Linked DNA regions of Homo sapiens: regions 2 and 3 are each reported to be linked to region 1. The links are microRNA targets in miRTarBase. Many come from high-throughput screens and were not tested one by one. Region 1 holds a microRNA gene; each other region holds the end of a gene's coding sequence.

Region 1 (4,155 bases):
AGGGGTCCACCAAGGTATACCAGGGTCCTCGCCCTGATGCAACCAGAGTAGTTCTTCATCGACTTTATACAGTGGGACTCTGAAGAAAAGAAAAAGGAAAACCCCATAGCTTAGTGGGAATCCGGGCGAATTAAAACACAGGATGAAGTGCTTGTTCTCTTTGGCTCTTGGAGCATAATGTATGTCCTTTTCCTACTTGGTTTGCGTGTAATAACATCATTGGTATATTTCAAAATATGAAGCTCCTGGTGCTGGATAATAAATGTTTTCCCAGTTTTTCAACCTCTTATGTCCTTCATTGATGCCCAGTGGCCCAGGGGCTGCACCTTCAGCACAGTGTTGAGAAAGAGCCCCGGAAAGGGACTTACAGGCAGACCTTCCCGGGAAGAGTCAGGCCCAGCTCCATGTGCTCTTTGGAGGGGAGTGGAAGGTTGTTAAACCTCATAGCTCTTGGAGGTGGGGCTGAATTTTGCTTCTTGTAAACCTCTTTCCATTGGAAATTACCTCTTTCTCCCCTAAAGAGAAGGAAGTACTGGACTGTCTTCATCTCCCTGGCTGCCGAGGCCATTTGACACCTTGTGCCACCTGAGAGAAAGCAGGCCCAGCATGGCCCTGCCTGAGGGGAACAGGACGGCAAGCCCCTGGCCTCCTGCCTGCTCCCAGCTGCCCTCTGGCGGCCACTTTCTGAAAGCCGGATATGTCTCTTTGCTGACCCACCCCTGTTCTCACCCCAGGGCTCCAGATGTTGTATCAGGCAGGGCCTTTGTACGCCTCCATGCCAACAGCTACCCAAGTCGCACCGTCAGTCACACTCTTACTCAGGCTCTCCTGTGCCCCTGGCCCTTCTTCCCCTCTCACTTTTCCCCACACTTCTAAAATCTCACTCGTCCTGTCAGAATGTGGCTCCACAGATGGAGCCTTTCCCAGCCGCCCCGCTCCCTGTGACTTTGCACTCCCTCCTGCACTCCCACGGGGCTTTATTTTTGCCTCTGTCCTAACAGTCAGCTGCCACTTGGCCTGTCCTGCTATTCCCACTGCATGAATCTAGTCAGGTTGGAAATTCAGAAAGTGGCCTCTTTGTCTCTGGACCCCAAAAACCCACACATCGTCTGCCTTATAAGCTCTCAGTATATCCATCCCTGGCTGCAGGAACACACCAGGACCCAGAGGCTGCCGTGCCTGGAGCCCTGTCTCCTGACTCAGCCCAGGCCCCAGCTCAGCATCGAGGTCCTGTGGGACCATGTCCAGCAGTGAAGGCTGTGCATTGGCCTGAGCCCCTGGTCCCTCTGACTCACTGGCTCCCATTTTCACCACCTGCACTGCATATTCTCACCGTCTCTCCCCTGACACTCTCTCCCCTGAAGTGTTGTAATGGGGTTGTAACCCATCCACCTTCTCTTGTCCTTCTTCAGTCTGTCCTCCCTGGGCTGCGTCTAAAGGGGCCCCGCCCCTGCCCTCATGCATGTTCTCTCCATACTCCTGGTCACCTTCTGCTCATCCTTTGCCCTGCTGTTGTGAAGCCTTCCCAGTGCCCCAGAAGACCTCAGGCACCCCTTCCCAGTCCTCGCACACTGTTGGTGTCCCATTTGTTTGGACCCTGGGTTTGTTTGTCTAGACTGTGAGCTCCTCGAGGGCAGGTGTCTGTTTCTGTGTCTCGGGAGCCCTGAAGAGAGACTGACACATCAGAGGTGTCTGGTGACTGAACAAGCTCCCAGCTTGCGCCCATGTCATATTGTGTGCCTCTCATAGCCTGGCACTTCCTGCCATTGCATCCTTCTCTGCAGACTAAGATGGAGTTCCTGAACCAAGACCGCTTGCTGGCCAACCTGTGAAACTGGGCTCAAGGTGAGGGGTGCTATCTGTGATTGAGGGACATGGTTAATGGAATTGTCTCACACAGAAATCGCACCCGTCACCTTGGCCTACTTATCACCACCCCAAACAGAGGAACACGCCTTCTCCAGCCACAGCCTATGGAAGGGCCTTCAGCTGCTGTGGCCCCGAGGTGTGCATACTGTGGAAGGAACTTCGGACGTGAACTCGGATCTGGTTCCAGTACCAGCTGTGCCAGGAGTGTGCCCTTGGGCATGTCACTGACCTAAGACTCAGTTTCGCCATCTGTGAAATGGCTGAATCAGACTCACCTCACAGGGTTGTTGTGAGGGTACCATGAGATGATGTTTGTAAACATTCTTTGTCACCTCTAAATTACTATAACAGTTTGAAGTTACTCTTTTTAAAAAAATTATTTGCAAAGGTAACTAACAATATCAGCCGTGCACAGTGGCTCATGCCTGTAATCCCAGCACTTTAGGAGGTCAGGGGATCACTTCAGTGTGAGAGTTCGAGACCTGCCTGGTCAACATAGCAAGACCCTTGTCTCTACAAAAGCATTAAAAATTAGCTAAGTGTGATGGCGTGTGCCTGTGGTCCCAGCTACTCAGGAGGCTGGGGTAGCAGAATTGCTTGAGCCCTGGAGTCTGAGGCTGCAGTGAGCCATGGTTACACCACTGCACTTCAGCCTGGGCAACAGAGCAAGACGCTGTCTCAGGAAAAAAAAAAAAAGGTAACTAACAATATCAACTCCTGTGTGGTGCCAGCAGCCATCACGTTGGGACACAGAGGGAAGCCAGGCTTCTTGGATCCTGATGGTCAGAGAACACTTTCTGAGGGAAGCGGGGCTTGAACCTGGGCCCTGCAGGGCTGGGGGTGAATGGGGGGATCTGATGAGGAGGAGGACGGCGGCACCAGCAGATCTTGGTGGTTTGGAAGTTCAAATCAAGATCTGAGAAGAGGCTCTGTCTGACCCTGGGGGTCTCCCTCGGCACATTGGTAGTACTGTGCATGCCTCACGGGTGCCCCTAATTTCAGAGCATCCCACCTGCATCCTGCTGCTGCCATTGTCCTCCTCAAAAGAGCTGCTGGCTTATTGCAGTTTACATCCTAGAGAAGAGAGGTCTCCTCCTTCCACCAGTCCCAGGATTATCTCCCTAACGCTAATGGCGAGATTCCTTTGGAGTTTTAGTCTTCTGTAGATACAGCCCAGGCGCCATGTGCCCAGTCAGGGTTTGAGATAGGTGGTGGTTCATTCCCCAGCCTTGCCTCACCAGCACCTTCCTGACGCCTCCTGGTAGGGCTCAGGAAGCAGCCAGCTGAGGTGTGCCTGCCATGGTCAGCACAGTGGTTGACAGAAGTGGCACAGATTGTGGGGGCAGGTGACAGGGTACCATGCCCTAGCTCCAGGCACCCGCTCCACCCTGTCACATGGAGCAGCTGTGAAACCTTGAGCAAGCCATTTCACCATTCTAAGCCTTAGTGTCCTCATTTTTTTTTTTTTTTTTTTTTTTTTGTGATAGAGTCTAGCTCTTGTTGCCCAGGCCGGAGTGCAGTGGTGCAAACTCAGCTCACTGCAACCTCTGCCTCCCAGGTTCAAGCGATTCTCCTGCCTCAGCCTCCCAAGTAGCTGGGACTACAGGCATGCGCCACCACGCCCGGCTAATTTTTGTATTTTTAGTAGAGACAGGGTTTCACCATGTTGGCCAGGCTGGTCTTGAACTCCTGACCTCTGGTGATCCACCCACCTCGGCCTCCCAAAGTGCTGGGATTACAGGTGTGAGCCACCGTGCCCGGCCAGTTTCCTTGTCTTTAAAATGGGTGTGACAACCACCTCACAGAGTTGTCATGAGGCTCAAATGATAAAATAGATGGGACTGTGATTTGTAAGCATATGGCACAGTGAATGCAAGTTGTTCCTGGAGTGCCCAATCCCTAGATACTGGGATCTCACCCCTCAGTCGTAGCCAGAGTCATTTCATTCTGGTGTGCCACCACCCAGAGCTAAGCCGTATACTCCTTACAGAAAGGAACAAACCCCTTCCTGGATGCTCTTGTGCCTGGATCTTGGCTCCCTGAGATTGCAGGGAGATAGCAGGAATTACTTTCTCCATTTTAAGAAGGAAGAAACAAAGGCTCACAGTGCTAAGAAACTTGCCCCAGGCCACTCTGGTGAATGCAGAGCTTAAGGCCCAGAGCCCAGATGTTCTGATTTCCAGTCCAGGTCTCTGCCCAGTGGACCAGACTGCCTCTCAAAAGACCCTGCTCAGCTGGCAGCCCCCCAGCTTTCTAAACTATAACCCGGCTTGGTCAGAGGTTGAT
Region 2 (4,155 bases), not on the chromosome of region 1:
TCTGAAGGCGGCTGTGGTGGCTGCTCCTGTGCTCCCCTGGGGAGGTCCCCACCCCTCCCCTCCAGGAGCAGGCCTGGTGCAGCCCACTCTGTGCCTGGACATCCCCCGCAGGCCGCCGCGTCTGTGTTGGGGAGCGCCTGGCCAGGACCGAGCTCTTCCTGCTGTTTGCCGGCCTCCTGCAGAGGTACCGCCTGCTGCCCCCGCCTGGCGTCAGTCCGGCCTCCCTGGACACCACGCCCGCCCGGGCTTTTACCATGAGGCCGAGGGCCCAGGCCCTGTGTGCGGTGCCCAGGCCCTAGGAGCTCCCCCAGCCCCCAGGTCCTCCTGACCACTCCCCTCCCAGCCCTGGGTCCTCCCACCCTCTCTCCTCCCACCCCACAGCTCGGACTGCTCTGGGAGGGCCCTGAGGACTCCCACCCTCACCCCCACCCCCACAGGGTCAGCAACTGCTTCCGGTTACACCCAGGACTACCCCTGCCCGACCCTGTGGGACCCCCACCCCTCTGATGCTGTCTGCAGCTCAGTCCCTGCCAGCCCCCAGGAGCGCCTCCAGGGCCCCGCCCACTCTCCCACCCCTGAAGCTGCACTCCCACCCACCTAGCTCCCCCCAGGGCCCCCCAGCACCTACAGCTGGGGCTGCAGGGAGACAACGGGTGGCTGCATCCAGCCAGAGACAGGCGCAGGTGGGTGTCCTCAGCGTGCGAGCCCTGCACCCCCCAGGTCCTGGGACTCCTGCAGACCCCACTCCATTCCCGCTCCTGGAACACTTCCTGCAGCTGTGCCTGGAGGCAGTCGGCCTGCAGTGCCAGACTCTGAGCCAAGCCACTGGGGCCATGCGTATGACTGGTGCAGGGAGGCAAGGCCCACATTCTCCTTCAGAGACAGGCACTGGCGCCAGAGGCTTCCTTGGGGCGGGGGGAGGGCACCTCAGCCCCTGAAGACAAGCAGCACTGCAGTGGCAAAAATGGAAACACTGACCCGGTGCGGTGGCTCATGCCTGTAATCCCAGCACTTTGGGAGGCCGAGGCAGGCGAATCACGAGGTCAGGAGTTCGAGACCAGCCTGCCCAACATGGTGAAACCCTGTCTCTACTAAAAATACAAAAAAATTAACCGAGCATGGTGGCACGTGCCTGTAATCCCAGCTACTCAGGAGGCTGAGACAGGAGAATCGCTTGAACTGGGAGGCAGAGGTTGCAGTGAGCCGAGTTCGCACCACTGCACTCCAGCCTGGGTGACAGAGCGAGATTCCATCTCAAACAAACAGAAGGAAATGTCGAGCCACACAGTGGCACATGTGCTGGGGGCGGTGTGGTCGGCAGTGTGACAGTGGCACGTGTGCTGGGGGCGGTGTGGTCGGCAGTGTGAGTGGCGCGTGTGCTGGTGGCGGTGTGGTCGGCAGTGTGAGTGGCACCTGTGCTGGTGGTGGCGTGGTCGGCAGTGTGAGTGGCGCGTGTGCTGGGGGCGGTGTGGTCGGCAGTGTGAGTGGCGCGTGTGCTGGGGGCGGTGTGGTCGGCAGTGTGAGTGGCGCGTGTGCTGGGGGCGGTGTGGTCGGCAGTGTGAGTGGCGCGTGTGCTGGGGGCGGTGTGGTCGGCAGTGTGAGTGGCGCGTGTGCTGGGGGCGGTGTGGTCGGCAGTGTGAGTGGCGCGTGTGCTGGGGGCGGTGTGGTCGGCAGTGTGACAGTGGCGCGTGTGCTGGGGGTGGTGTGGTCGGCAGTGTGACAGTGGCGCGTGTGCTGGGGGCGGTGTGGTCGGCAGTGTGACAGTGGCGCGTGTGCTGGGGGTGGTGTGGTCGGCAGTGTGACAGTGGCGCGTGTGCTGGGGGCGGTGTGGTCGGCAGTGTGACAGTGGCGCGTGTGCTGGGGGCGGTGTGATGGGACACCTGCTGTCTGAGACGGCCCTGGCCCCCGTCCCAGCGCTGACCATGCACGTGAGCGGCAGGCGGCCCCTCACCGAGAAGAGAGGATAAGCCGTGGCACATTCCCACCTGCGCCACGTGAAGCGGCGCCCCAAGGCCAGGACGTGGTGGCCGGGACACACGGGTGCACGGCAGGCCTCACACTCCCAGGTGGGGCCGCAGGGTCCCTAAGTCATGGGTGGGGCTGCTGCTACGGAGGCTGCTGCAAGGACGAGAAGGGGACGGAGGGATGGAGGCTCGGCTGCGTCCGCTCACCTATTTCTGGGGAAGAGCAGGGAGCGAGTGCTGGCTTCACTATTCTCCCCTCAGACATTTGAAATATGACACTGAAAACTTGAAGGGCAGAAAGAACGGGGTCCTGGCGCCAGGTGGGGCCACGCGACGCCCCGCCCAGTGTGACTGGTGAGCCCCTCTGGAGCTCTGGAGGGTGCGGAACATTCCAGGGCAGGGGCTGTGGAAAATCCCTCCCAGCTGTTGTCAGGGCTCCCGGGTGGGGTGGAGGACTCAGGCCCAGCCCTCCCAACCCTACAGGGGACCCTTGTGCCCCCAACTTAGTCGGCCTCCTGGGTGGGGTGAAGGACTCAGGCCCCGCCCTCCCGGCCCTGCAGGGGACCCTCGGGCCCCCGCCTTACATTGGCCTGGGGTATTCATCTCCTTGGGCCCAGGGGAGCCCGAGGCCCACGTGGGGAGGAAACGCTGACCCTGTCCCGCCCCGCTTCATGGAGGCCCAGCCGACATGAGGGACACCAAGTACAGGGTGATGAGTGACGGCTGAGCTTCCCCTCAAAGCACTAAGACAATAAACATAACCCCAACCCCAACCCTGACCCCGCTCGCCCGACTCACGCGACCTCTCACCCCATCTCACCCAGCGAGATGACAGGGCTCCTCCACGGGGTACAGCCAGGGCCCCCCAAGTTAGGCGGTCCAAATGCCTCATCCTCAAGTGTAAACAAGCCTAGCTTAGTGAAAACAGAGTAAGCAGGTATCAAATCTCCTTTAACTCATGCCCATGGGCGTGGGCAGGGGTGTGGGGCGGGCAGGAGGGAAGGGGGGGGCCGAGTGAGACCCGAACCCCGGAGGTGCCACCTTCTCGACCGGGCAGACCTGGGTGCCCGTTTCTCACAGCTGCACTCAGGCTGCCGGCCAGGTGCACAGGCACGTCCCGGGGGCTTGCTGGGAAATGCCGGGGCTTGGCACGGATGGGACAGGCCACTGTCTACGCCTCATTTCCAAGTGTTTCTTTGTTGCTATTTTTAAAAATGGTGATAAAATACACGTAGAGAAAATTCACCATCAGCCATGTTGAAGTGCACAGTTCAGGGGCACAGGCACATTCACGGCCACCACTGTCACCTCCAGAGCCTCCTCATCTTCCCGGGCTGAAGCCCTGCTTGCGTTAAACACCCACTCCGAGTCCCTCCCCAGTCCTTCTCCTTCCTGGTCTGTGGGTGTGAGGGCTCTGGGGACCTCGAGTGAGTGGGGAGTGGTGGATTTGTCCTGCTTTATCCACGCACCTGCCAATGGGTCCTTTTCAAGGGTCCCAGAGAACTCAGGCAGCAGGCAGCCCGCGAGCCCAGCTTCCTCACGCATGGATTTCGGGAGATGCCTCTGTGGACATCCACCCCATGGTGCCCAGATGTCATGGGAGAGGCAGACACCCCGAACCCCATGGCTCACGACGTGGCTGAACTGCTCCCCGGACGTCTGTCCTCAGCAGCAGGAGGGACGCCGACCCCGGCCCCTGTACCCCCCCGCCTCTAGGTCTCCAGGGAAGGACCCTCCTGGGGTGGGCAGGCTGCTCTTGGCCCCAGATCTGCTTCTGGGTCTGAGGCTGGCCCTCAGCCGTGCTGCACGTGCCTCCCATTACCATCCTAAGTCAAGGCAAAACAAAACCACACAGTCCCCGAGCCATCTGCAAACCTCCCGCAGCAAGCTCGGAGGGTGAGGCCCCCCCACAGTAAGCTCGGAGGGTGAGGCCATCTGAGTGCCGGGCTGGCCGGGCTTAGGAGGAGACCAAGCTTTACCCACGGAGACGCCGTTTAATGGAACCCAAGTGACCCAAGGGAGCTGCCACGCCACCGCTCAACCACACCCACAGGGAACACACATGTAGGGGCCTGGGGCCTTGTCCAGTGCGGGGGTCCTGGTTCAGATGTCCTGAAGCTCCTCCCTCGGAGTGGGCAGCCCCCATTAGGAAACTTCTGGAACCCAGAGGCTGGAAGCCGGCCTCACTCTG
Region 3 (4,155 bases), not on the chromosome of region 1:
GCAACAACTTCGTGAAGAAGAGGCGCGGGCGTCCCAGGAAGCAGCCCACCCAGTTCGATGAGGACTCCAGAGACCAAATGCCGGTGCTGGAAAAATGCATCGACCTGCCCAGCAAAAGAGGCCAGAAGCCCAGCCTGAGCCCGCTGGTGCTGGAGCCCGCCGCCAGCCAAGACACCATCATGGCCACCATCGAGGCGGTCATCCACATGGCCCGGGAGGCGCCGCCCCTGCCCCCGCCACCGCCGCCGCCCCTGCCGCCACCGCCGCCACCACCCCTGCCCCCGCCACCCCCTCTACCCAAGACCCCCCGAGGCGGAAAGAGGAAACACAAACCGCAGGCCCCCGCTCAGCCCCCACAGCAGTCGCCCCCGCAGCAGCCCCTTCCCCAGGAAGAGGAGGTGAAAGCCAAAAGGCAGAGGAAGTCCCGAGGGAGTGAGAGCGAGGTCCTTCCCTAGGGCGGGTCTGGGCGTCTGCACCTGGGGCCTAGGGAACTGACACGTGGGAAGCGCAGTGAGCCGGGGCGGGGGCGGAATCCCCCGCTGCAGGGACACCCACGCCCTTCTCTCCAGAAGCCGGGCAGGCAGAATCCGGCCAGACGACGGGGCTGAGCCATCAGGAGCTCTTGGGAAAGCAAAGCAGGGAGACACCTTCAGAAGAAGCTTGTCTGAGCTTCACCGCAGCTCCCACCACGCGGCGCTTCAGTACGGCTGGATCCTCCGCAGGCGAGCGGAAGGCCCCCAGGAGGAGCAGGCTGGTGGCACTCTCCTGACCTCACGCTGCCAAGGTGCGCCCTCGACTCCCGATTTCATTTGCTGGCCAGGAAAATCGAAAGGGAAACACCCTCAATTAGGAAACATTCCAAGGGGAGAAAAGCTGCAAATTGCTCAACTGGCATTGCTGTAACCCGTTCCATTTAATTGGTTTTTATTTCTTTTGATTTTCAAGCTCTGCTAAGCTTTGGGGTACCAACGTCATCTTCAGGTGACCTGAATCTTTCCCTTAACCGTACAGTTTCTCGATGGAATTGTGTGATCAGAAGGTGGAATTCTAGTGATAGGCGACCTCAGACCCGCATTCATGTTCTGTGTGCCTCTTCTATTGCACATACACTGATTTTTAGCATTGTCTATTCCTATTTTTCCTTTGCCCATTGTACTTCCATATATCTTTTCATTAACTTACTTGCTGCCTTTTTTTTTTCTTGGTACACATTTAAATAAAGTAATCCTTAACCTGTGCTGTAAAGTTCACCCTTGGCATGCTGTTCCAAGAACCTGGGTTTGAATCCCAATCGTTGTGAAACATACTCAGTATTGATAAAACCTTTTTAATAAGTGATGCAGAGCAGCCAAGGATATGTTGACCCAGATGTCAACCAGGCTATTTTTATACTTAAAACATGTCAGCAGAGCATAGGCAGAATAAAATGGTTTAAATACCCCACAGCAAATAGAGTAACTGACAAACCACCAAAAACTGAAACCCCAGACCCACCAGAAAGACAAGTGTCTAGCAATGCCTTGGTACCTGATCTTTTTCATTCAAATAATTGTCATAGGTTGTTCAAAAAAAAAAAAAAAAAGGAAACAAAAACACAATAGAAGTCCATTATCCCTTGATAATTATTTCTTAAAAGCAAATGGGAGTAAGTGTTCTTATCTGGAAAAATAAATAAATAAAATGCTCAAAGGGTATCACCACTTCAATTTTATCAAGCCACCTTGGACAAAGTATCCAAATTGTGGTTGCCTTAATAAACTAAAACATTATTGTACATAATGTAATTATAAATCTATCAGTCTGCATGGATGCAAACTGTGTGTGACAAATCGTCTTTTAAATGGTCAATTTCAGCTGTACATTTCTCATCCAAGTTGTACTCTAGCCATTGGTTTAGCGTGGACAGATACTCCATCTCTATTATCCATTTCCACAGCCCAAATAAAATATGTTAAGCAGGCTCAGAATGAATATGAAGAATTCCATTTCCGTAGATGTTTTCTAAAAGTCAGATTGTGGAAATTTCAAATAAGTATTTTCAATTTCCTCCCTCACTCCCTCTTACCTTCCCCAAGACATCAAACACCTGGCATGGTAGATTATAGAAAGAGACACTGAGAGAGAGAATTAAATTTTCTAATGGGAATTAGAATATCTGGTTTACCTCCAAATTAAGTTTCTTTACAGGAAGTTGGGACCAGCTGGAAATTGTATTATCATTTCGGAACACAATATTACTTCCTTAGAGAGAGATGGATTTTTGTTGGCAACATAAAAGAATAAGTGATGGGGTATCTATGTGAGTAAATTTTTAAATTCCAAGTTAATATGCTTGCAAACATTACTGCTGCGTTATGGCACCAAGAGTTGGTTGAAATTACCCACGTAGTCATACTCCTGTGCTCTGTCACCATGGACTTCACATCATTTGCTGCCCACTAGTTCAATCGCATTTAATCCTAGCAATATGTAAGTTTAAAGGACTGCATTCCCCTCTACTTTAAAGCTTATATCCTAGATACTCAGTTTGTGACCTTGGTTGACCTTTGGCATTTCACGCAAGTTGAACAGCAAAATCAAAGCAGCCATTTTTAATTCGTCATTCCCAAGCCCTATCTGAGTGGTTCCAAAGTCACCTGAGAGGAAGGTTTAAATTAGTCCCTCTCACCCCACCATTGCTATAAAACAGCAACGTTTTCATTCCAATTCAGCCATAAAGAGGTTTCTCTTCTTACTGGGTTTTGAAATCATTTCCTTTTTTCTTTCGTTTGCCCTTCTTCCTTCCTGTGTTGTACTATCTCTCCAACCACGTCTATAAGCAGACTCAATCTTCTTGCAGAGGAAGATGAGCTGGCACTCTGCAAACTTCTTTAATAAGGACCCAAAGTTTACTTGACATTAACCTCTAGTAGGTGAGAAATTCCAAAAAAGCTTTGGGGTACATTAGAATTTCCAAAGCTCTGAAAGATATTTCAGGAGATTTAACAGCAGAGTTGCAACTTACACGTGAATTCTGGTCTATAGTGGTCATGTGAGTTAAATTCGAATCCTCTACTTGTATGACCCTAGGAATAGATTGGAATACTGCAGAGGACCAAAGCTGAGGCATGCTAAACAGCTGCTTGGAGGTGGAAGCAAGTTCAGTCACCTACTCAGCTTCCTCTCTCCACCACCCAGTTCCTCCCTCAGTATCACATTATTTTTTTCTTCTGCTTTTCATTAACCTAACTCATCTCATCAGTACAACCATTTTCTTATTCTCTAACTACCCCCAATTCCTTTAGCCTCTCCCCACCTGTCCAAACTCAGCTCAGCCGTGGGCCAATGCAGCTTACAGACGGTTGCAGAGCTAGGAAGAAAACCCAGCTCTCCCAACCCTGATCGTGGAGGTCTCTGGCCCCCCAACACTGCCTTCTGGGGGCTGCATTTTTTTTTTTTTTTTGAGAAGAGGTCTTTTGGGATGCATGGTGCTCCACATACAGCTTCACAAAATATTTCATTATAAGAGAAACCCCTTGATTTTTATTTCTTTTTCTTTTGTTTTCTGGATTACCTGCCTTCAGTAAGCAGATGCAGACCCACTTGTAAGGAGTCTGGTTAGTGATGAGAAAAGGATGAAATCTAGATACAAAAGTCACCTTGAAGGTGATGATGGATCTTTAATCCACTTGACTAAGTGTCTGGAAGAGCTACTTGCTCTTCCACCCCTCATCTCAAATGAGAGGAGCAGAAGTTTAACTTCCTCAAATAGCCCAGCTCTGGCTAAAACCCAAAGAAGAAAGGTCAAAGGAAGGGAAAGCATGTCAGGGGCTGGTTTGTGACTTGGCAGGACCAGGAAACAGCAGCCACTGACAGCCCAGAGAAGGTGACTAAGGGCTGGCAGAAGATTAGAATGTTAATTTGGCTGCTGTCCGGACTAGGAGGCCATGTTCAATGGCAGTCAGAATTTGTGTTCTGCGCATTGCTGGGTCTATAAATATGATAAGCAAGTGGTGACAGAATTATAGTATAAGGTGATGTACTACATGCAGATCATAAAGGCTTTGGTTTTAAGACTTAAGTAGAAAATCCCTCTCCTAGCTTATTACCCAACAATATTCAGATAATGAGCTTTTGGAGAATATCTTTTTCCTATCACTAGAAAGATTTACCTGG

What was found. The annotated mature microRNA hsa-miR-342-5p reads AGGGGUGCUAUCUGUGAUUGA and lies in region 1 at 1,849-1,869, shown strand. An mRNA with a match to its seed (bases 2 to 7 or 8) in the 3' UTR can be bound and repressed. Matches are read on the target gene's strand: a 7mer-m8 pairs with bases 2 to 8, a 7mer-A1 pairs with bases 2 to 7 and ends in A, and an 8mer does both.
Region 2: miRTarBase lists CYP2W1 as a target of hsa-miR-342-5p. Seed matches in the 3' UTR shown: 7mer-A1 at 372-378 and 7mer-m8 at 710-716.
Region 3: the mRNA of SETBP1 is a reported target of hsa-miR-342-5p. Seed matches in the 3' UTR shown: 7mer-A1 at 2,666-2,672.

Annotation. Positions count from the first base shown.
Region 1 is chr14:100,107,825-100,111,979 of GRCh38, forward strand. MIR342 (microRNA 342) reads left to right here and starts at 1,831; the gene lies at 1,831-1,929. All of the region lies in intron 3 of EVL (Enah/Vasp-like), which reads left to right. It overlaps MIR151B (microRNA 151b), which reads right to left and starts at 1,690; the gene lies at 1,595-1,690.
Region 2 is chr7:988,524-992,678 of GRCh38, forward strand. CYP2W1 (cytochrome P450 family 2 subfamily W member 1) reads left to right here. Exons shown (of 9, transcript NM_017781.3): 9 at 112-1,117. The coding sequence ends at 299. It also overlaps a transcript of CHLSN not described here. Among named protein-coding and RNA genes, the nearest start is that of CYP2W1, 7.4 kb to the left of the region's middle. RefSeq lists an enhancer at 244-844.
Region 3 is chr18:45,063,244-45,067,398 of GRCh38, forward strand. It overlaps SETBP1 (SET binding protein 1), which reads left to right. Exons shown (of 6, transcript NM_015559.3): 6 at 1-4,155. The coding sequence ends at 455. Among named protein-coding and RNA genes, the nearest start is that of MIR4319, 95 kb to the left of the region's middle.